2 separate regions of the Homo sapiens genome follow, and region 2 is linked to region 1. Evidence: fine-mapped expression QTL. A gene starts in region 1. The other region holds a variant in brackets. All regions are shown on one strand. Distances are from middle to middle.

The links.
Region 2: its variant is fine-mapped to the expression of GANAB in ovary (GTEx, PIP 0.93).

What each region holds. Positions count from the first base shown.
Region 1 is chr11:62,641,881-62,649,880 of GRCh38, forward strand. GANAB (glucosidase II alpha subunit) reads right to left here and starts at 4,733. Exons shown (of 24, transcript NM_198334.3): 1 at 4,682-4,733. The coding sequence starts at 4,719. It overlaps INTS5 (integrator complex subunit 5), which reads right to left. Exons shown (of 2, transcript NM_030628.2): 2 at 4,968-8,000. The coding sequence ends at 5,140. RefSeq lists enhancers at 2,932-3,739, 4,055-4,214 and a silencer at 4,825-4,904.
Region 2 is chr11:63,583,645-63,599,496 of GRCh38, forward strand. It overlaps PLAAT3 (phospholipase A and acyltransferase 3), which reads right to left. Exons shown (of 5, transcript NM_001128203.2): 3 at 14,417-14,519; 4 at 6,456-6,724. LOC105369335 (a long non-coding RNA gene) reads left to right here. Exons shown (of 3, transcript XR_950179.3): 2 at 2,924-2,983; 3 at 6,385-6,446. Among named protein-coding and RNA genes, the nearest start is that of PLAAT3, 23 kb to the right of the region's middle. The variant TC/T (reference allele first, on the strand shown) is at 8,644.

The sequences.
Region 1 (8,000 bases):
ATTTTTAAAAAGTTGTGGTTTTTGTTTTTTTTCTGGCCAGGCGCAGTGGCTCACACCTGTAAACCCAGCACTTTGGGAGGCCGGGGTGGGCGGATCACAAGGTCAGGAGTTCGAGACCAGGCTGGCAAAGAGACCAGCCTGGCCAATATGGTGAAACCCCATCTCTACTAAAAATACAAAAATTAGCCAGGCATGGGAGCAGGGGCCTGTAATCCCAGCTATTCAGGAGGCTGAGGCAGGAGAACTGCTTGAACCAGGAGGTGGAGGTTACACTGAGCAGATCATGCCATTGCACTCCAGCCTGGGCAACAGAGCGTGACTCTGACTCAAAAAAAATAAATAAAAATTTTTTTTGGTAGCAACAGGGCCTCACTTTGTTGCCCAGGCTGGTCTTAAACTCCTGGGCTCAAGCAGTCCTCCCATCTTGGCCTCCCAAAGTGTTGGGATTATAGTGTCAGCCACTGTGCCCAGCCTGCCTGCAGTTTTTAACAATATCAGTGACCTGGTCTCACTTCTAAAAATTTTAACTTAATCAGAGAGAAGCCTGGGCATCAGACTTTTTTTTTTTTTTTGAGATGGAGCCTTGCTCTGTCACCCAGGTTGGAGTGCAGTGACATGATCTCAGCTCACTGCAACCTCTGCCTCCTGGGTTCAAGCGATTCTCCCGCCTCAGCCTCCCGAGCAGCTGGGATTACAGGTGCCCACCACCATGCCCAGCTAATTTTTTGTATTTTTAGTAGAGACGGGGTTTCATCATGTTGGCCAGGCTCGTATCGAACTCCTGACCTAGATCCGCCCGTCTCAGTCTCCCACAGTGCTGGGATTACAGGCGTTGTGTCATCGCGCCCCACTGGCTAAAGTTTTTTTAAAGTTCCCTAAACAACTCTAATGAGCAACCTGGGTTCACAACCACTTCTTTACATGCATCTTCTTTTCCCTTTCTTCCATTGTTTTCTTGGTGAATATAGGGTTGGGGTTTATTTCCAGATGGGAAAATTAAAGCATAAAAGGTTGAATAGTTCACCCAAGATTAAATAGCTGGTAAGGGATGAAACGAACTGAACCCAGTTGTGCTTGACTCTGGGGCCCATGTGCTTTACCATGATGCACAATACAGCACACTAATCACTAGCAGGATGAAATGGGCCTGTCTCATTGAGGACCATCATCCCAAGGTTATCACGAATTGTCAATTTCCCAATGTGCTATGAAATGACAGATAAGAGACTAATAGGCTTATTTAAATAAGTTAGTTTGAAGAATATATTCATCCAGGATTCATCCTTAGGATTCTGAATAAATCCTAAACAGAGATTCTCAAATTTTAATGTCTGTTAAGAATCAGCCAGGCATGGTAGCTCACACCTATAATCTTGGCACTTTGGGAGGCCCAGGTGGGCAGATCACGAGATCAGGAGTTAGACCAGCCTGGCCAACATGGCGAAACTCCATCTCTACTAAAAATACAAAAATTAGGCCGGGCGTGGTGGCTCACACCTGTAATCCCAGCTCTTTGTGAAGCTGAGGCGGGTGGATCACCTGAGGTCAGGAGTTTGAGGCCAGCCTGGCCAACATGATGAAACCCCGTCTCTACTAAAAATACAAAAAAAAAATTAACAGGGCATGGTGGCACACGCCTGCAGTCCCAGCTACTCAGGAGGCTGAGGCAGGAAAATTGCTTGAACCCGGGAGGCAGAGGTTGCAGTGAGCCAAGGTTGTGCCACTGCATTCCAGCCTGGGCGACACAGCGAAACACCACCTAGAAAAAAATAGATATATACAAAAATTAGCCAGGCGTAGTGGCACATGCCTATAATCCCAGCTACTGGGGAGGCTGAGGAACGAGAATGGTTTGAGCCTGGGAGTCAGAGGTTGCAGTGAGCTGAGATCGCACCACTGCACTCTAGCCTGGGTGACAAAGTGTGACTCTGTCTCAAAAACAAGAAAAAAAAGTTGCCCAGGCTTGTCTTGAACTTCTAGGCTAAAGCCATCTTTCCACCTTGGCCTTCCAAAATGCTGGAATTACAGGCGTGAGCCACTGCACCCACCCTGGATACCGCATTTTATTTTTAATTTTTTTTGAAACTGAGTTTCACTCTTGTTGCCCATGCTGGAGTGCAATGGCACGATCTTGGCTCACCGCAACCTCTGCCTCGCGGGTTCAAGCAATTCTCCTGCCTCTGCCTCCCAAGTAGCTGGGATTACAGGCGCGTGCCACCACACTCGGCTAATTTTGTATTTTTAGTAGAGACGGGGTTTCTCTGTGTTGGTCAGGCTGGTCTCGAACTCCCAACCTCAGGTGATTCGCCAGCCTCGGCCTCCCAAAGTGCTGGGATTACAGGTGTGAGCCATCGTGCCCGGCTGACACCACATTTTAAACATGCTCTCCCAGTGACACTGATATGGGCAGAATACGAGCATACTCTGAGAAAGTGTTTCAAACTGGGGGTGGGAGGGTTCTTCTAAGCAATAAAGTTTTACAACCAGCCAGGCACAGTGGCTCACGTCTATAATCCTAGCACTTTGGGAGGTCAAAAAGGGAAGATTGGGCAACACAGCAAGACCTCGTCTCTACTTAAAAAAAAAAAAGAGTAGCAAGGCATGGTGGCAGGTGCCTGTAGTCCCAGCTAATCAGGAGGCTGAAGCCGGAGGACTGCCTGAACGCAAGAGTTTGAGGCTGCATGAGCTACGATTGCACCACTGCTCTCCAGCCTGGGCCACAGCACAAGACTCTGTCTCAAAAAAGTAAATTAATTAAGACTGGTCAATGGGGTGTCTACTAAAAATACAAAAATTAGCTGGGCACGGTGGCACACGTCTGTAATCCCAGGACTCGGGAGGATGAGGCAGGAGAATCGCTTGAACTCGGGAGGTGGAAGCTGGAGTAAGCCGAGATTGCACCCCTGCACTCCATCCTAGGCAACAGAGCGAGACCCTGTTTCAATAAGTAAACAAACAAATAAATAAATAAATAAAATTTGACAACCTATAATAAGGTAACTAAAGACAGGGTCTATTATACACATTGTATCTAGTTATCTAGCATTAGCTTCAGCATCTGCTTGAAAGCTAAAAGAAAATTACCAGAAATGAGATCACAGAGTGTACTATGATCTCATCACAGGACTCTCCTCCAGCTCCAGAGGAATGTACGAAACAACTGTTCCACAGCAGGCCAGACAGAAAAATGAAGAAAACACTAGGCACTGTGGTTTAATAGGCCAAGCAGAATAAATGCTACCACAAAACTCCATAGCAAGGCATGCGGCACAGGTCCTGCAGTGAGTGACCTGAGTGACTGCAACAGGCACTCTTGGCCACTGACCCACGTCCACCTGCCAAAAGCAGCAGTAAATAGAAGTACAGTGAGTTGAGGCCGGGCGCGGTGGCTCACGCCTGTAATCCCAGCACTTTGGGAGGCCGAGGCGGGTGGATCACGAGGTCAAGAGATCGAGATCATCCTCACCAACATAGTGAAACCCCGTCTCTACTAAAAATACAAAAAAATAGCCAGGCGTGGTGGCGGGTGCCTGTAGTCCCAGCTACTCGGGAGGCTGAGGCAGGAGAATGGCGTGAACCCAGGAGGCGGAGCTTGCAGTGAGCCGAGATCTCGCCACTGCACTCCAGCCTGGGCAACAGAGCGAGACTCTGTCTCTCAAAAAAAAAAAAAAAAGACGTACAGTGAGTTAAATACCCTCTGGGGCCCTATTTGCACAGTCTGTAAAATTGGTTCGGAAAGATGCCAATGGAGATAGGATTCCTAAAGCATCTTTCAGATATGACCTGTTGGAGGGCCCTAAGGAATTCACGGCGGCCTTGACCACCCCAAGAGAGGTGTTCATAGGCCAAAGTCAGGAATAAGCTGCAGGGCAAGTTGCACGCATTTATTGTTTCAGATCACAGGCTCCGAGGGAACTGAGTTTATGATCCACGCTTTCTTCATCGCTTTGGAGAGTACACGCCTACCCCACCCCAGTATATCCGTTAGGTCCTAGTAAACATTTGTGGCACTGGTGATATGTTTCGAATCTTTTTTTTTCCCCAGTAATATAAACCCGAGAGCGTGGACCAAGCCATTCGATTACATGTTGTGTTTGAGCAACACCATCCACGCCGTGAGCTTACTGGACCCTGGGCCGTGCCCAGCGACCGTGGACACTGAACTAAGCCAGAGCTGGTGCTCACGTGAAGACAAGGGCAGAGGAGGATTCGGAGCTCTACAGGGTAGAGCCAGAAGGGTAGTACAGGCTTAACTGCTGGCCCGGTGCTTCCAGCTCAGCCGAGGGGCCGCGGGGCCGCAGGCTGCATTCCCCGAGGCCAGGCCGCATCTTTTCCCCCGCCCCGACGACCCCGCGCACTGCAGGAAGGGGGCGGCGACGTTGACCGCCGCAAGCAGCCAAAGGAGGGCGGCGGCTGAGAGCGGCCAAGACCAAGAAAGACGCACAGCTGTGGCTTTACTAAACCGCCGGGCGGGAGCCCGGAGCCCCACAGGCAAGGCCCCCAGCGTCGCTCGGATCTACCACGGGGAGACCGGAGGCGTCTGAGGCCGCCTCCAGAGGAACAAAGGTTCCTCACGAGGCCGGGGGTGGCAGAGTGTCAAGAGACACACAGGAAGGAGTGGAATGGGACTTGGGGGATCTGGGGGCGTCCCGGGCGCGCCCCCAGATTCCGGGCTCCTCACCGCCTCCTACGCGCCGCCACTGCCGCTACCGCCGCCATCTTGTGCAGAGTTTGCTCCTTGACCCCAAACCTCCCGCCCCATCGCGCGCGCTCAGCCACGTATCCTAGTTCCCGCCCCTTCCGGCCTTATGATTGGTTCGACCTGAGCGCCGCCGGGCAGCTGTCTCATTGGTAGAGTGCGCACTCCAAATTATCGCAGGGGGCGGGGCTTCAGGCCAGGGGCGGGAACGTCCAGAGCCAGGCGCTGTCAGACTTTGCACGCTCTCAGCATGACAGAAGCACTGGACTGGTTTTCTCAAGTTGGCAAATTTTATTTAGAAAAAAAAAAGTGGGAGAGAAAAAAGTGACAGCGCTCTTTAGACCAAGGACTTAGAAGAGAAACCTCCACCCTTCCGGAGCACGTTAGTCCCTTCCCTCTCTCACTGCTCAACCTCCCTGGGCTTCCAGAGCAAGAAAAGGCTACGTCCCCTGTCGAAGGAGAGTGGACGGTGAAGGTGCCTGGAAACGGCCAGAGAAAAGACCTAGGCGGTCGATGTTGCGGTGGAGGACACTGTGCAGCACAGCCAGATGGGGTCCACCCTCACCTCCACCCTCCCTGGAGAAGTCCCGAATGAAGCGACCCCGCTCTGATTGGAAGATGAACTTCTGAGGCAAGGGCCCATGCTCCCGGAGAAAACCCCAGACACTGAGCAGCAGCAGACGCACCTCGAAAGGTGCCAGTTGGCTAAATACTTCATGCATATTACCCAGGGCCGGAGGCAGGAGGCTTCCCTCAGCCATGACAGCCACTAAGGTGCAGGATGCCTCCAGGTGCCAGGGGGAGTGGGTCGTGTCAGGGTGGCGAGAGGCTTCCCAATGGCCCAAGAGGGCGGCCAGCAGCCCCCGAAGCAGCACGGAACAGTAGCACAGGGCTGGGGGTGCAGCTGCTACCAGCTTTAACAGCTCAAAGAGCAGGGGCTGTTCGCGGAAGCGCCGGCCAATGCGGAGATCCCGCTCCACGGTGGCCCGGGCGTGTTCCTCGGGGGGCCAGGCCAGCTCTGCACCAGCTGCATCGGGACACACACTCTCCACCAAGGTCACTGCCACTGCTTTGGCTGCCTCTGGACTCAAGATGGGTGCCCCCCAGCATTCCCCACATTCAGTGCCCCCTGGGGCACTGCAGCAGTGAACCAGGAGGCTGAGGAGGCTCTGGGTGTTATAGATCACTTCCTGCTGATTTCGTGACTGGACAAACTTGGGTGGCTTTAAGCCACGGCCGATGACTCCAGCATGGAAAACTGACCAAATCCCTCCAGGACCTGGCACAGCTGCAGTGTGCCTCCGGTTAGTGTCCAACAGGGAGGCAGAAGCCAAAGAAGCTGAAACAACTGAGAGAGTCTCATTGTCCCCATCTACTTGCCCACCAAACAGTTCTGTGTTGCCTCGATGTAAGGCTCCTTCAACCAGCAGCTGCAGGACAGCCTTGAGCCCAGCTGGGGATGTCTGAGACAGGCGGGTGAGAAGCTGACAGGCTGAGGCCACACCTGGGGGTCCATGCAGCCTCAGAGAGGCAAAGAAGCGGTGCACCCCAGCCCTTACCAGTCCCAGGAGCTGGGAGGGGGATAAGGCTTCAGAAGGAAAGGGACAAATGGCCAGGAGAGAGGCAGCAGCTTCAGCTACTTCCTCCTCAGGATGTAGCAGGAGAGGAGCCAGGTCAGACAGATGGGCTGAGGCAGATTCCCCAAAGTGCGCCCCTAGGGCTGCAGGGCCCTCGCCACCCTGCTGTTCCCACCCTACTAGCAGTGCCAAGTTGCGCAGGAACCGGGCCGTGAAGGGAGGCTGTAATGTCCCTGCATGCACCCGAGCCAGACAGCTTCGGAAAGCCAGGGGCAGGAGGCCAGAGAGGCTGACCACTAGCCCTGCATATAACTGGGTGGCCAAACTCAACTCTTCAGGGCTTCGGGCTCGGCTCAGCAGATGGCCCAAGGCCTCAGGTCCACAGCTAGGCCGGGTATAGACAGACAGCAGGCCCAAGAGCTGGTGCTGCCAGAGGAAGCGCTTCCGTTCCAATCGTAACGTCTCTCCACACAGCTCTCCAACATGGTTTTTGAGCGCATCTAAAAAGGGCACCAAGCGGGGAGGTGGGGGCGGGCCTAGCACCCCTTCCCCAGGAGACCCTCCCCGGTGATGAACCAGTTTTTGCAGGTGCAGCAGCAGCAGCTGGATTAGCCGGTCACAAGCCTCACGCACGGTGTCTGGCACAGCCAGGCCCTGGGTGGTAATGACCGAAGCAGGCATAGCTGTGTCCACCAGGAACTGCAGCAAGCGGTAGGCACCTGCCCCAGAGGCCTGGCTCACCAGGTGCACAGCCAGGTTCAACATGTTGTCCAGCTCCTCTCGGGGGAATCCTTGAAGGTGTTGCTGCAGCTGGCTCAGCACAGCTGGGGGCTTGAGGCAATCCACAAGCTCTCCAGAGACAGTGCCCAGCAAAGCTGGTGACATGACTGCCAGCTGCAGTAGGAACGGAACCGTGGCCTGAAGGGAGGGGTCCCCACTGCGGCCTCCAGATCCCCCTGCCAGGCTATCATGGAACATTCGCAGGAGCTCCCGTCGGATGCTATCTCCGTGGCGGGAGGCCAGGTGACCTAGGATGCCTACAACTGAGGCAATCTTGGGCACCCGTTTCTCCGCAGGAATGGCAGGAGATCCAGGGAAGGGGTCTGTAGAGGGGGTCTGAGAAGAGCTTCCACCACTACTGCCAGCTCCACCTCCAGCCCCACCATGGACACAAAAGTCCTTAAGGCCACAGGAGAGAACCCGGGAAATGATGGTGCCAGGAAAAGAGGAGCCAATATGTGCCACAACCCAGTCAAAGTGTGGAGAATGCTGAACAGAGGTATCCAGCAAGGCATCCACACACGCATCTGGGCAGCTACCAATGAGAGCCGAGAGGCACTGCACATAGATGTCCATTAATGTACGCGTGGCCCTACAACCCATCCACAGCTGTAGCAGTTCATTAAGAGCGCCAGTAGCGTGGGGAACACGCTGGTGCTGGCCTGAGTACGTGCTGCTCAGTTGCCCCATGAGGTCAATGGACCATGCACTAATCACAGGTGCCCAGGCCTTTGGGTTGGCCCGGATAAACTCAGACAGCACCTGCTGCACTTCCTGAACCACATCCTCTAGACCAGGTCCACCAGCAGGGACATGAGAGGGTGGAGGTGGACGGAGGTGAGGTGGACCAGCCACAGGGGTTTCATCCAGGGCAGCCAGGTGGGCCCGGACACTCTCATCAAAGACACCTCTCAAGTGGTCAAGCACAGCAGCCCGAGCAGGTG
Region 2 (15,852 bases), 950 kb after region 1:
AGACTGAAAGGTCCAATCCAGCTGCTGTGTTGTTATTACAGGATTTCTGATCATGAAAATGGGCTACCTGGTGTGTGTCACAGGTCTTAAATCAGGATATCAGGATATTGTGAAAGAGAAAAGCTGTCTCTCATTAGAAATATTAAGAAGACTGTTTTTTTTTTAAGTGGGCAAACAAATTCTGCCAGACTACAGACATTTAGACATTTATACTACAAAGCTCTTCTGAGTTAAGCCTTGATTTAGGGAAATCTAAATCATTTCTGGAAAAAAGAAAGTGCTAATGTGCTGCCTTCACTTTCAACAATGTTATAGGTGGATTAAAGAAGAAGTGGAGATAGTAGTGTTATTCTGAAAGCAATCCAATTGAGACTGTTAGAGGTTACAATATAAGAATGGTTATGAAATAGTTGTATATTTTCCAACAGTGATCAAGTATACAAAAAATAATAAATCATTTAAAAAGAAATAAAATATTTGCATAAAAATTTGGTTTCATTTACAGTAATTTCAAAATAATACCCCACAATTTATCCAGATTTATGTAATATATGTATTGCCGCCAGACACATCTTCAATTTCTATTTACCTTAATATTTTCTCTCACTCAGACTAGACTTCATTGTGAGTATAGCTTCTGGTTGCTTTTTTTTTTTTTTTAAGTACTGTTCAGTATGAAAGTTTCTTTACAAAACCCTACTAAAATATATGTTTTTTGAAACCTAAATATTTTTAGGTAGGTGGAAAGTAGGAGAATCTTTTTTTTAGAATATTCTTAGGCATGTAAAGCACAAATTACGTTTTAGTTTAAATTCATTGTTTCCCTTCTCAGGAAATTTGATTAATCATAAACTTTTTTTTTTGTTTTTTTTTGTTTTTTTTTTTTTGAGACAGAGTCTTGCTCAGTCGCCCAGGCTGGAGTACAGTGGTGCAATCTCGGCTCACTGCAAGCTCCGCCTCCTGGGTTCACGCCATTCTCCTGCCTCAGCCTCCCAAGTAGCTGCGACTACAGGCCACCACGCCCAGCTAATTTTGTTTTGTATTTATAGTAGAGACGGGGTTTCACCAGGTTAGCCAGGATGGTCTTGATCTCCTGACCTCGTGATCCACCTGCCTTGGCCTCCCAAAGTGCTGGGATTACAGGCGTGAGCCACCGCACCTGGCCATAAATATTCTTTTGAAGGAAAATCTAGTCTGCTTCAAAGAGCTCAGCACAAATATAATGACTGGTCAGATTCTTTAAAACACACAAAAATATCCTCATGAGTTAAATGAAAAGGAGAGTCACTGCACTGACAGTGCTTACAAAGAAAAATACTGGTGGACATTTTCTGATATGTACTAAATCTATCATCTCTAGCAAGATGGGGCATGCATCGAAGTTCTTTTTTTTTTTTTTTGAGATGGAGTTTTGCTCTTGTTGCCCAGCCTGGAGTGCAATGGCGCAATCTTGGCTCACTGCAACCTCCACCTCCCGGGTTCAAGCAATTCTGCCTCAGCCTCCCGAGTAGCCGGGACTACCGGTGCACACCACCACGCCCAGCTAATTTTTGTATTTTTAGTAGAAACGGGGTTTCACCATGTTGGCCAGTATGGTCTCGATCTCTTGACCTCATGATCTGCCCGCCTCGGCCTCTCAAAGTGCTGGGATTACAGGCATGAGCCACTGCGCCCGGCCAGAAGTTCTATGTTAATTTGACTCACAGCATGTGTCAGTGATCATTACTCACCTAAGTCACTAGTTCTCAACTGGAGACAGTTTTTCCCTGTGGGGGGAATTGTCTACAGACGTTTTTGGTTCTTACATCTGGCGGTGGGATGCTACTGGTATCTAGTGTGTAGAGGCCAGGGATGCTGCTAAGCATCCTACAGTGCACAGGACAGGACTTGACAATGAAGAATTATCTGGCCCATAATGTCAATAGTGCTGAGGCTGAGAAACCCCTATCCTAGACCAAGAAATGAAAGAGGAAATCTTTAGAAGCAGTAGAGATGGCACCTCTGTTTTTGTTGTAGAATATTCTGGCTTCATTTTCTGTGATGGGATCAAGTAGAATTGTTCATGCTGTTTCACTGTTGTGTTATCATTGTTTTGCCTCTTTCAAGTGAATGGGTAGATGGGTAGGGCCAAAGTCCCAGGAAGAAAAGTGTGATGTGTTCAATTTGCATTGTTTCATTTTGCAAGTGTTAAATTATTGTTTACAAAAAGAATAATGGTATAAGACATTTCTTAGTTATTTTACTATCTCAAGATTTGGAATTTTATTTAATTACTCCAAATAGCATTTATGGCCAGGCGCAGTGGCTCACATCTATAATTCCAGCACTTTGGGAGACTGAGGCAGGAGGGTTGCTAGAGACCAAGAGTTTAAGACCAGCCCAGACAACAAAGTGAGACCCTGTCTCTACAAAAAATACAAAAATCAGCCAGGCATGGTGATGTGCACCCATAGTCTCAGCTACTTGGGTGTGTGTGTGTGTGTGTGTGCACGTGTATGTGTGTGTTTGAGAAGGAGTCTCGCTCTGTTGCCCAGGCTGGAGTACACTGGCGCAATCTTGGCTCACTGCAACCTCCACCTCCAGGGTTCAAGCGATTCTCCTGCCTCAGCCTCCTGAGTAGTTGGGACTGCAGGTGCCCGCCATCACACCCAGCTAATTTTTGTATTTTTAGTAGAGACGGGGTTTCACCATGTTGGCCAGGGTGGTCTCAAACTCCTCACCTTAGGTGATCCACCCACCCCAGCCTCCCAAAGTGCTGGGATTACAGGCGTGAGCCACCACGCCCGGCCAGCCCCGTTCTTTATTCTGTTAATAACTGCTGAAAGAATAACTAAATGAGATGATTAGGATATATTTTGTAAACCTACCAAATATTCTTAACGTAGAACTCTGAATTTCAAAAAGTATCTTATTGCTTCCCAAGGTTGTCTTGTACTCTGTATTTGGAGTTTATTGCTGCATAGGAGCATGAGTTTTACCAAGAGTAAGTAAACACCTTGATAGTGATGCAAGATCACCAATGATGAAACTCAATTTGTTATCATGTTTGTCTTTCTTATGCTAATATTGTCACTGCTAATTCAAAAAAAAAAAACTTCTATTATACCTAAATCTGTCAATAAATGTTCATTTTCAAATTTAAAAAGATACATAAATGGGCCAGGCACAGTGGCTCACGCCTGTAATCTTAGCACTTTGGGAGGCAGAAACAGGCAGATCACTTGCAGTCAGGAGTTCCAGACCAGCCTGGCCGATATGGGGAAACCACATCTCTAATAAAAATACAAAAATTACCCAGGTGTGGTGGCACATGCCTTTATTCCCAGCCACTCTGGAGGCTGAGGCAGAAGAATCACTTGAACCCAGGAGGCAGAGGTTACAGCGAGCCAACATCGCACCACTGTGCTCTAGCCTGGGTGACGAAACAAGACTCTGTCTTAATAAATAAAAAGATACATAAATAAAAAACAAGAGAGAGAAGATAAGAAAATCAGCAAAGCAGTCTAGGGATCCAATAGCCTAATAATAGGAGTGCCAGAGAATACAAACTGGAAAATTTCCAAGAACTAAAGAAAGTGAGTTTCCAAGTACCTGGCACAATACATGAAAATAGACCCGTGCAAGGTAATAAATTTCAGAACACTGAGGATGAAGAGAAGATTCTATACAGTTCTGAAAAGAAAAAATAGATCACATACAAACAATAAAAAATCAGAACAGCTTCAGACTTCTCTACCACAATAACAAAAGCTAGATGACAATAAACCAATGCCTTCAAAATTCTGAAAAAAAAAATATTATTTCTAACCTAGAATTCTATACCCAGCCAAATGATTAATCAAATGTGAGGATAAAATAAAGATATTTTCAGGCATGCAAGATCTTTTTTTGTTTGTTTTTTGTTTCTTGGGTCTTTTTTTTTTTTTTTCTGACCAAGTCTCACTCTGTCACCCAGGCTGGAGTACAGTGGCGTGATCTCGGCTCACTGCAACCTCTGCCTCCTGGGTCCAAGCAATTCTCGTGCCTCAGCCTCACCAGTAGCTGGGATTACAGGCGCATGTCACCATGCCTGCCTAGGGATCTTTTTAAAATGTACCATTTCTCAGTAAACTATTAGGGGAAGTAGTCTACCAAAACAAGGGCATAAACCAAAAAAGAGAAGGATGTGAACTACAGAGGATAAAAGCATTAATATAGCAGGGAACTGAAAGAAATTTCTAGGATGCTAGTAAAGAGAGATACCAAGATGACAGCAATGCCTCATCAAGTGTGACAAGAGACAAATGTGGCCGGGCACAGTGGCTTATGCCTGTAATCCTAGCACTTTGGGAGGCTGAGGCGTTAGGATCATTTGAGCTCAGGAGTTCAAGACCAGCCTTGGCAACAGAGTGAGACCTCATCTCTATTAAAATAAAAAACAATAAAATAAAAAAAATTTTTTTTGAGACTGGGTCTTGCTCTGTCACCTAGGCTGGAGTGCAGTGGTGTGATCTCGGCTCACTGCAACCTCTGCCTCCCGGATTCAAGTGATTCTCTTGCCTCAGCCTCCTGAGTAGCTGAGATTACAGATGCCCAGCACCATGCCCGGCTAATTTTTGTATTTTTAGTAGAGATGGGGTTTCACCATGTTGGCCAGGCTGGTCTCAAACTCCTGACCGCAAGTGGTCTGCCCGCCTTAGTCTCCCAAAGTGCTGGGATTACAGGTGCGAGCCACTGTGCCCGGCCTAAAATAAAATTGTTTTAAGAAAAGAAAAACAAGACACAAATGTTTTGAAGGCTGTTATCCCCAAGAGATAGATGTAGTAAGTGCCACCATCCCCTGGTCTCCTGCTTTCTTTCACTGCATCACCTTTTTAACCTGACAATATTCAGGCACTAATGAAGTTCTTCTCATGGCCCTGCCCACTGATTCCCCAGAAGAAAGCTCTTATCAACTCTCAGGGAAGTTGAAGCCAGACCATGACCAACAGACTGCAATCTTCACAAACATTGGCAATATTGCCCTTTCTTTACCTAGTTAGCTATGTACCACCTACTCAATTTCTAAGTTGATCACCTTTAACATTCATATATAAATAGTTGTTGAACATGAATAACCCAACTGATCGAAGAAAAAAATAAGAGGATACCCATTCAAAGGTAACTAATATCCCACTGTAGACAGGTATAGGAACCGCCTAACAAACATGAGGGTTGGTGTAGTAAGCACAGCTGGTTATCAGCAGTATGAAGAGAGTAAGAGTGATTCCTATAGGTGGTGTTAGTCAGTGTCTTCCCATTCAAGTGGCTGTGGCCCACAGAGGCCAGGGGACCAGGCAATGGATGAGCCAAGCAAAAAAAAAAAAAAAAAAAAAGAGGAGGATAATTTAAAAAAAAAAAATGAGGATAATCATGACTATTTTTACTACTACAATGTATTCAGTGTGCTAAGAATAAACATGCTCTTATTTAATTCACAAGGTAATCCTCCAAGATGAGTATTATCATTCGTACTTTACCAAAGTGTAGGGAGCTGGACTAACTCTCCTGAGGTCAGACAGCCGGCAAAAGGCAGAGACCAGGTCCAGCCCACGTTGGCCTGACTCCAGGAGCCCAGGCTCTTAACCACCACACTGACCAGGGAAGAAGAAATTGGATCTCAAAAAAAATAATAATAAAAGTGAACAGCCTGATGGATCTTAAGCTAATCATTCACTGAAAAAAATATGTATTCTTTTGCATCAACAGCCATGTAAGAACCTTCCCAATGTTCTTTTCACCTATGCAAAGAAAAAAAAAAAAAAAAAGATGGAAGTGGCTGAAAGGGAGGGGGAAGAAGTGCAAGGAAATGAGAAGAGAAAAAGAGATTGAAAGGAGAGGAAAGACAAAAATAAAATCAAGTAAATGAACAAAACTGCATCCCCTAGGGTCTCCCAGATTCACCCTTAGGGTTCAGCCAGGCTGAAGACAGTGCTGTTTATAAGCACGATCAGGCTATGCCACACAGACCTGGGCTTCAAATCCCAACTCTGCTAATTATCTGCACAGGAAAAGACAGGTACCAGGTCTGGAGACTCAACAAAGATTTTTTTGATGAAATGAATGGCTGTAGACAAGTTACTTAAGCTCAGTTTCCCAATCTGTAAGGTAGTGGGTCCTAAAACCTGCCTTTAGGGCTGGGGAGGGCCATCTCAGGGACAGGTGGCCAGGGAGGGCTTGGCAATGGGAATGATCATCATGTCTGTGACTCCTTTCCTTGGCCACCCACCCCCGCCCCCGACTACACTGATCTGCATTGCCAACTTGCCTCTCTCCCCACCCTTGTCCCCACCCTTGTCCCAACTGTGACATCCTCAAGGGCAGTAATTCTGTCTCTGCTATTTTGTCTTGTTCATGCCTCCATAGCCATGCCCAGCCTCCGTCAGCAGAGGGAATGGTCTGGTTCCTGGGGAAGGCGACACAGGCAGAGGACGCACCTGGTCACTGCGGGCGACTCCATAGCGCAGCTCATTCACAAAGTGCTCGCAGTTCTCACTGGTCAGCTTGTAGAGCACCTCCTGCCCCACCAGCTCCTCCGCCCGCTGGATGATTTTGCTGCAGGGCAGCGGCGAGTACTTGTCATCATGTTTGTTGTTGACCTGGTACTTGTCACTCCCGGCCACATCATACAGCAATTCCTTCTTCACGATGGCCTTGTCAGTCAGGGCGGACATGACACTGGCTGCACCAGCTCCTGCGACCTCACCTGCAGATCCACAAAGAGGAAACAGAGGGATTGGTCCTGGGAAGGGCCACGGAGGCTCAGAGCTGGCCCCCAGCCGGGCATCTGCCCTTGGCTCATCCACAAAGGATAAGCAACAAGTGGAAGGGTCAGACGCATGGCTGTGGGCCTTGGGGAAGGTGTGTGTGGTCTCTGGGCCCTGGTTTCCTTATCTAAAATGAAAGGGAGTGAAGTTCCATGATTTACTGTGATTTTTTTCTTACTCTAGAGAAGGTGGTCTTCTATACCTCATGACACTTAAGTGGCCCCCTTGGTTATGCAAATATGAGCCAAGAGCATACTCATCCACCTGGGAAGATAAGGTGGGAGACTTTTATGATGGCATCAGGGCTACACCTACTTGACCACACAAAGCTGCTTACTGCAGAAAACATGGCTGGGTTTTCCAGAGTCCCAGCCCTTCTGGAAACAGACCCACCAAAACGCACAGCTGTCCCCCTAGCTGTGATGGATGCTAAGGAGGCTTAGTGGGTACATGGGCACAGCCCAGGCCAAGGCCCAGGGCAAGGAAGGGCCACAAAGCTCCAGAAATGAAATGATCTTGAAGACAAGGAGTCCAGGTTCAACATGAAGACCAGGATGGTGGACAGGGAAAGCTGATGCCAACACAGACTGGGCATTCCTCCCAACTCAAACAACCTGTGTGGCGCAGGGAGAGGCAGGCACTGAGTATGATGATTGAAAAAGTGGGGATGGGCTGGGCACAGTGGCTCATACCTGTAATCCCAGCACTTTGGGAGGCCAAGGCAGGCAGATCGCTTAAGCCCAGGAGTTTCAGACAAGCCTGGGCAACATGGCAAAACTCCGTCTCTACAAAAAATACAAAAACTAGCCGTGTATGGTGGTGTGCACCTGTGATCCCAGCTACTCAGGAGGCTGAGGCAGGAGGATCACTTGAGCCCTGGAGGTTTAGGTTGCAGTCAGCTGAGATTGCGCCGCTGCACTCCGACCTGGACAACAGAGTGAGATCTTGCCTTAGGAAAAAAAGAAAAAGAAAAAGTAGGTATGCACTCAAGGGATGGGCCTACGCACCCAGGGAGCATGTCAAAGGAGGTTCACTCTCACTCTCCTCAAACAGCCACTGTGACCCTGTCAGGGTCAAGGCCCCCAGGGTGCCACAGCAGCACCCTGTTAAACTGGGTAGGACCAGTCTTCAACAATGACATCCGTGTGACAGCAACAGCAGGAGAGGCCGATTAGATTTCAGGTCCTGCTCTTCTCCGCTTTCCAAAGACCAATAAACCTTTTCAGCCTGCATGCAATGCCTACATGCAATGCCAAGATATTAGAAATTTAGGGAATTCAGACTTGATAGGAAAAGGGCACGTGAAGCTTGGAAGATTCATTGAAGTAAATAAAAGAGAGGGTGCCTTATTGGAGCCCTGCGTTTGTCGGGAGGATGAGCTCCTGGGGCCCACCCAGCCTCAGCTCCCAGGCAAAGTGGGTGACAGCGCAGGGACTCGGAAGAGGCAAGCAAGTTGCCTAGAGCCCAAAGTTTAAGGAGGCACCAAATCTCAGGGCCATGCAAGTGCAGAGTCAACAACCAAGAGTGAGGACTTCCTTAAACTTATATCTAGATGCCACCCAGGACAGGGGTACCCTGTGCTCAAGCTGGCGGTGAGAAGCTCTGGGTTCGACCCCAGCACATCACCAACCAGCTGAGTGGTCTGGACCTGTCACTTCACTTTGCTCCAGAAATCCCCAAATACACACTAAAATTGATGCACAAATACATATCAACACAGTAATTTAAAGTTCCTTCTTTTTTTTTTCTTATTTTGAGACAGAGTCTCACTCCATTGCCCAGGCTGAAATGCAGTGGTGTGATCTTGGCTCGCTGCAACCTCCTCCTCCTCAGTTCAAGCGATTCTCATGCCTCAACC[TC/T]CTGAGTAGCTGGGACTACAGGTGTGCACCACCATGCCCAGCTAATTTTTATATTTTCAGTAGAGATGGGGTTTCACCATGTTGGCCAGGCTGGTCTCGAACTCAAGCCTGGTCCGAGCTCAAGCAATCCACCCACCTCGGCCTCCCAAAGTTCTGGGATTACAGGTGTGAGCCACCACACCTGGCCTAAAGTTCCTTCTTTTAAAAAGTGAGTCTACTGAAGAAAATATGAAGTGAACAATCACAGAAAGAGCATGTGGATGTGGCAATCCATCAGCGACTGAATTTTGGGATAGCTTGGACTGGGCAGTGCAGCATTGTGGTTAAGTGCACAGAATCAAGTCAGACTGCCTGGGTTTGGGTCCTGCCTGCACCCCTTACCATTATGCAACCTTGGGTAAGTTTCTTAACTTCTCTGAGTCCCCCATTCCTTGTAGGATAGAAACAAAAATAGTCCCTACTGCACAGGCAGCTGTGAGGATTAAAGGGGTTGGCCAGAAAACATGCTTTCACCAGTGTCTGGCACAGGACAGGCACTTCAGCAAGTTTATAAGCTTCCTTCCAGCTCTAATTTCTACAGTTTTCTCAGCAGCAGAAGGTCAGTCCTCCTTGCCTCATCTATCCCACATGACTCCTGTGAAACTCAAGTGAGATGCAGGTAGAAGCATCTTTTCCTTTGAAGGAGTATCACTGACCTGATGGTCTGTGACACACCTGTCCACCTGTCCACCCGGGTGCTTGTCATGCCTTCCCCAACCCTCTATCTACCACACACACCTGCTCAGTGCAGCCAATCAATACTGAGGCCCTACTGGGTGCCGGGCCTTGTCCAAGGTGCTGAAGTCAGTGACGTGATCTGGACAGCAGGCCTGCCCTCAAGCAATTCCCATGCTACTGAGAAGACGCTGACAATGAACAAATACACAAAATAAGATACTTGCAGGTACCAACAGACACTATGGAAAGACAGAGTGGAGTGACATGGCAAGGATGACCAGCAGAGGCTGCTGTTGCTCAGGCTGGGGAGGCCACCCCAAGGAAAAGGCATCTTTGCTGAAGCTTGAATGATGAAGCATCTAGAACAGAAGGAACAGCAGGAATGAAGTCTGCAGGGAGGAGAGAGCTTGGCATGCCAAGAGGCAGCAAGGAGGCCAACGTTGCTGGAGTCTAGAGACCCAGGAGGGGAGAAGAGAAAGACGAGGCCCAAAGTCACAGACCAGGCCAGACCAGGCCGGGCCCTACAGGCCACAGTGTAGACTTTGATGCTTTGTTTTGGTTTGGTTTTGGTTTGTTTTTTTGAGACGGGGTTTCACTCTGTCACCCAGGCTGGAGTGCAGTGGTGCAATCTTGGTTCACTGCAGCCTCCGCCTCCTGCTCGTGCCTCAGCCTCCGCCTCCTGCTCGTGCCTCAGCCTCCAAGTAGATAGGACTACAGTGGCGCGTCACCATGCCCGACTAATTTTTGTATTTTTAATAGAGACGGGGTTTCGCCATGTTGGCCAGGCTGGTCTCAAACTCCTGATCTCAGGTGATTCACCCACCTCAGCCTCCCAAAATACTGGGATTACAGGCATGAGCCACCGCACCTGGCCCTTGATTTACGCTTTCAAACAATCACACCACCTGCCCATGAATGAGGAACTGGCCGTGAGTGGCAAGAGGCAGAGAGACCAGCCAGAAGTGACACTGCCACCAGGCGAGGGAGGGTGGTTGCTCATACCAGGGCGCTGCAGTGGGGATGGTAAGAAGTGGTCAGAGCTGGGGTCTGTTTCAGAGATAAAGCCAACAGGATTCCCTGATAGATTAGACATGGGTTGGAAGGAACGGAGAATGACTCCTAGGCTTTAGGCCTGAGCAGCTGAATGGTGTCTTCCACTGGAGCCTCCCATTTGGGGCAGATCAAGTTCAAGATGCCAGGTAGACACCCAAGTGGAGTTACCAAGTAGTCAAGAGGTTATGCAAGTCTGAAGCTGAAGGGGGATGTAAATTGAGGGTTTGGGCTTAGGAGATATTGACAAATAGAAGGTATTGGAAGCTAAGGAATCCAATGAGGTCATCTGAGCTCGATTTAGGGAAATGAGAGAGGAGGAGGAGCCCACACAAGAGACCAAAAAAGAAGGGCCCAGAGGGAGAGGAAGAAAGTCAGGTGCCAGGTGGAGAGCAGGAAGGTCACTCACATCAAATGCTGCAGAGAAGCCAAGTCAGCTGTGATGGGACTTGGCTTTAAGCTTTGGCAAGATGTGGAAGCTTTTCCCTACCCTTGAGAACTGCTCTGTCAGGGGGGCAAAAAAAGAGAGTCTGAGAGCAAAACTCCATCTCAAAAAAAAGAAAAAAAGAAAAAGAAAAAAGAAAGTGTGGGTATAGGGGATGGAAGGCAGAATGGGAAGCGAGGAACCGGAGGTGGCCAGGCAGACAAAGCTGTAATGAGATCTGCTCTGTAGGGCGTTAAGCAGAGAAGGATGTGAGGCCGGGCGTTTGATCAACGGGATATATTACAGCTGTCTCTATGTCAATACGAATGATCCAGTTGAAAGGGAGAAGATGACAATACAGAAGGAGGTGGGGAATTTGAGGAGCAAAGTGCTTATGAAAGGAAGAGGAGGGGGTGGGGGTACATGGGTAAGGGGCTCAGGGTGGGGAAGATGACATCTACTCTGGTTACTACTGATAGGGTGAGGCCACTAGTTAGAATTAAAACGATATGCAAAAGACATGTTCAAGGGCCGTGCGCGGTGGCTCACGCCTGTAATCTCAGCACTTTGGGAGGCCGAGGCAGGCAGATCACTTGAGGTCAGGGGTTTGAGACCAGCCTGGCCAACATGGTGAAATCCCATCTCTACTAAAAATACAAAAATTAGCTGGGCATGGTGGTGCGTGCCTGTAATCCCAGCTACTCCAGAGGCTGAGGCAGGAGACTCGCTTAAAAGCAGGAGGTGGAGGTTGCAGTGAGCCAAGATCATGCCCCTGCACTCCAGCCTGGGCCACAGAGCAAGACTCCGTCTCGGAAAAAAAAAAAAAAAAAAAAGAGTGTCTATAACAGCTCTATTCATAGCAGTCAAAACCTGCAATGAGTCTGATGTCAGAAAAATGGATGCTAAATTGTAGCATATTCATATAACAGAAAATACACAGCAGTGAAAAAGAATTCCTGCTACTCACAGCAGCATGGATGACTCACATGGGCATGATGTTGGCTAAAAGAAGCCAGACACAAAAGAGCACGGGCCGTGTGATACCTCTTCCATGAAGTTCTAGAACAGGCAAAACTCATCTATGGCAGGAAAAGCTAGAATGATGGTTGCCTGGGCGAGGCGTGGGGAGGCATATTGTAGAAGCATGAGAGAGCCTTTCAGGGTAAGTGGCACAGTGGGAATGTTCTAGATGTGGATCTGGGGCACTGTTACATGGATGGTTTTTTTTAATTCACTGACTGTATACTTTACTATGCTTGTACATTTTACAATACTTATGTTATACCCCAGTTTAAGTTAAAGGCTTAAGAGAAGGGTGAGGAATTCTCACAAGAGTTCTCCAAGTTAAGTATTCATATCCTCAGTTTGCAAAAAAGGAAATCAAGGCTGAAGAATGGAAACTGGATTCATAACCAAGTCTCTCTGCCCAAACACCTGCACTCTTCCCAGGAGCTTTACGCTTAAGAGTTGAGTGTGTTGCGGCCGGGCACAGTGGCTCACGCCTGTAATCCCAGCACTGTGGGAGGCCAAGGAAGGCGGATCACGAGGTCAGGAGATCGAGACCATCCTGGCTAACACAGTGAAACCCCGTCTCTACTAAAAATACAAAAAATTAGCCAGGGGTGGTGCCAGGTGCCTGTAGTCCCAGCTACTCAGGAGCCTGAGGCAGGAGAACGGCGTGAACCCGGAGGCAGAGCTTGCAGTGAGCCGAGATCGCGCCACTACACTCCAGCCTGGGCGACAGAGCGAGACTCTGTCAAAAAAAAAAAAAAAAAAAAAAAAAAAGAGTTGAGTGTGTTGCATACAAAGTCACGGCATAAAAAACACATCAAAACAGAGCTTCGTCCTCAGATGCCACCTTGGTCCCTCTACAGCAGCGGTCCCCAACCTTTTTAGCACCAGGGACTGGTTTTGTGGAAGACAATTTTTCCATGGACTCGGCAGTGGGGAGGGATGGTTTCGGGATGATTCAAGCACATGACATTTATTGTGTACTTTATTTCTATTATTATTACATTGTAATATATAATGAAATAATCATACAACTGACGATAATGCAGAATCAGTAGGAGCCCTGAGCTTGTTTTCCTGCAACTAGATGGTCCCTTCTGGGGTGACGGGTGACAGTGACAGATCATCAGGCATTAGATTCTCATAAGGAGTGATATGGTTTGGCTCTGTATCCCCACCCAAATCTCATGTCAAACTGTAATCCCCATGTGTCAGGGGAGGGACTATATGGGAGGTGACTGAATCATGAGCGAGATTTCCCTCATGCTGTTCTCATGATAATGAGTGAGTTCTCACAAGATCTGATGGTTTAGAAGTGTGGCACTCCGGACATGGTGGCTCATGTCTGTAATCCCAGCACTTTGGGAGGCTGAGGCAGGTGGATCTCCCGAGGTCCAGAGTTCAAGACCAGCCTGACCAATATGATGAAAATCCATCTCTACTAAAAATAGAAAAATTAGTCGGGCGTGGTGGCAGGTGCCTGTAATCCCAGCTACTCGGGAGGCTGAAATAGGAGAATCACTTGAACCTGGGAGGTGGAGTTTCCAGTGAGCCGAGATTGTGCCATGGCACTCTACCCTGGGCAAGAAAAGCGAAACTCCATCTAAAAAAAAAAAAAGTGTGGCACTCCCCCGCCTCCTGCCACCATATAAGACCTGCCTTGCTTCCCCTTCACCTTCTGCCATGATGGTAAGTTTCCTGAGGCGTCCCCAGCCATGCAGAACTGTGAGTCAATTAAACCTCTTTCTGAAGGGCCGGGCGCGGTGGCTCACGCCTGCAATCCCAGCATTTTGGGAGGCTGAGGCAGGTGGATCACGAGGTCAGGAGATCGAGACCATCCTGGCTAACACGGTGAAACCCCGTCTCTACTAAAAATACAAAAAATTAGCCAGGTGTGGTGGCAGGCACCTGAGTAGTCCCAGCTACTCAGGAGGCTGAGGCAGGAGAATGGCGTAAACCCAGGAGGCGGAGCTTGCAGTAAGCCGAGATTGCGCCACTGCACTCCAGCCTGAGTGACAGAGCAAGACTCTGTCTCAAAAAAAACAAAAAACAAAACTCTTTTCTTTATAAATTACCCAGTCTCGGGTAGTTCTTTATAGCAGTGTGAAAACAGACTAATACAAGGAGTGTGCAACCTAGATCCCTTGCGTGTGCAGTTCACAGTAGGGTTCATGCTCCTATGAGAATCTAATGCCGCTGCTGATCTGACAGGAGGTGGAGCTCAGGCGGTAATACAAGCGATGGGGAGCAGCTGCAAATACAGATGAAGTTTCGCTCACTTGCCCACCACTCACCTCCTGCTCTGGAGCCCAGTTCCTACCCAGTACCAGTCCATGGCCTGGAGGTTGGGGACCCCTGCTCTAAAGAACCCCCTGAGGTTCCCAGGAGCAGACCTTGAAAACCAGTGCCCCACACCAAACTGCCCCATATCAAACTTCTTGTAACATTCAGAGACAACTGCCAGTTGGGAAGCAAGAAGAATGTTGGGGTCACCTGTTACCCACAGTTCCCCATCCCCTCTCTTCCCAGCCCCTGGGGCCCATCACAGTGGAGGTCCCATGTGTTCTTACTTGGAGGGGCCAGATGAACCACATATCCATCGCCAACATAGATGGCCCAGTGTCTGTAGAAAGGGCGAAAAATCTCAATCAGGTCTCCAGGCTTAGGCTCTGGCTGCAAAACCAAGAACAGGGCTGTTAGAGGGAGCATGAGATCGTGGAACCAGGACAGGGCTCAGTGAGGAAGGTGCAGCTGAGTGGTCCCCAGCTATCAGCTCAGCAGAACATATGTCCTGAGCCCTGCTCTGCCAGGTCCAATGCCAGTCCAACTTCACAAGCTTGTGACCCAGACCTGCAGGCACCATGGGCCTGCCCTTCTGTCAATACAAATTGCCAAGTGCAAACCTAAAAGGTTTCTTCATGAGCTGGAGTCTCTGCCTTATTATTTCTAGGAATATTATTTATTGAACTCTTACTCTGAGCCAAGCACTCCACTCTCCATGTTTTACAAGATGGCTCAATAAATCCACACAACCATCCAATGATGAACCCCATTTTATGGATGAGGAAATCAAGGCCTAGAAATGTAAAAGAATTTGTGCAAAGACATATAACTCATGAGTGACTTGGCCAGGACTGAACGCCCAGTTGGCTGATTCCCAGCCCAGTCTGACCATCAGGAAACACCACCAGTTATGTGACTAGAGCTGCCCACCTGGGGTCCATGCCAGAGGCTGCCAGATCTGGAGGGCATTCCACAGACACTCCCCAACACCTGGCCTGGGCCTAATGGAGAACTGGCATCAGTCTCCAGCAGTAATGTCCCCCGGCTGCTCAGCCTGATGCTAAGGTGTGCATGTTCACATTGAGTGAGTATGTGTGTGAGGGTGGATGCATGAGTGTGAGACTACGTGTGAGAGTGAGTGTGCGTATGTGAGAAGGGGAAGGTAGGGAGGGTGCAGTAAATGCTCTCACCCTGTTAGGGGAGCATGGGGCAGAGTTTGAGAAAACTTCAGAGAGGTTCAAGATCCCATCCATTCAACATTATCCACGTCCATTCAGCATTAACCACATCCCAGAATCAGACCCTGCACTGAGTGCTGGGGGAGGGGAAGTTCCGACTCTCACTAGAATCAGGGGTAAAGAACTTCTCCAGGCCAACCTTTAAACCCCTTTAATGAGCAAAGAAATCAACCTTTCAGAACACCTAGAGACAGAGCCCATCAGAGGCTGGTTCTGGCCCCTTCATCCTTTGCTGGAGTCTTCAGCCACAGTCAGGGCTAAACTGCCCTCAGCACAGTGAAGATATGGGGTGAGGACTCCGGCTTGCTTGCACCTTGAGTCAGATCCATAGGGGTTTTCCCACATCTCGCCAGCAAGCTTGGTGGCCCTACCAGAGACATTCCATCAAGGATGAGGCATGGGGAGGACTCATCCTCGGCTGACCTCCCCTGGGCGCAAATGATGGGCAGTGGTTAACAGCCAATCACAACTCTACAACGCCTATG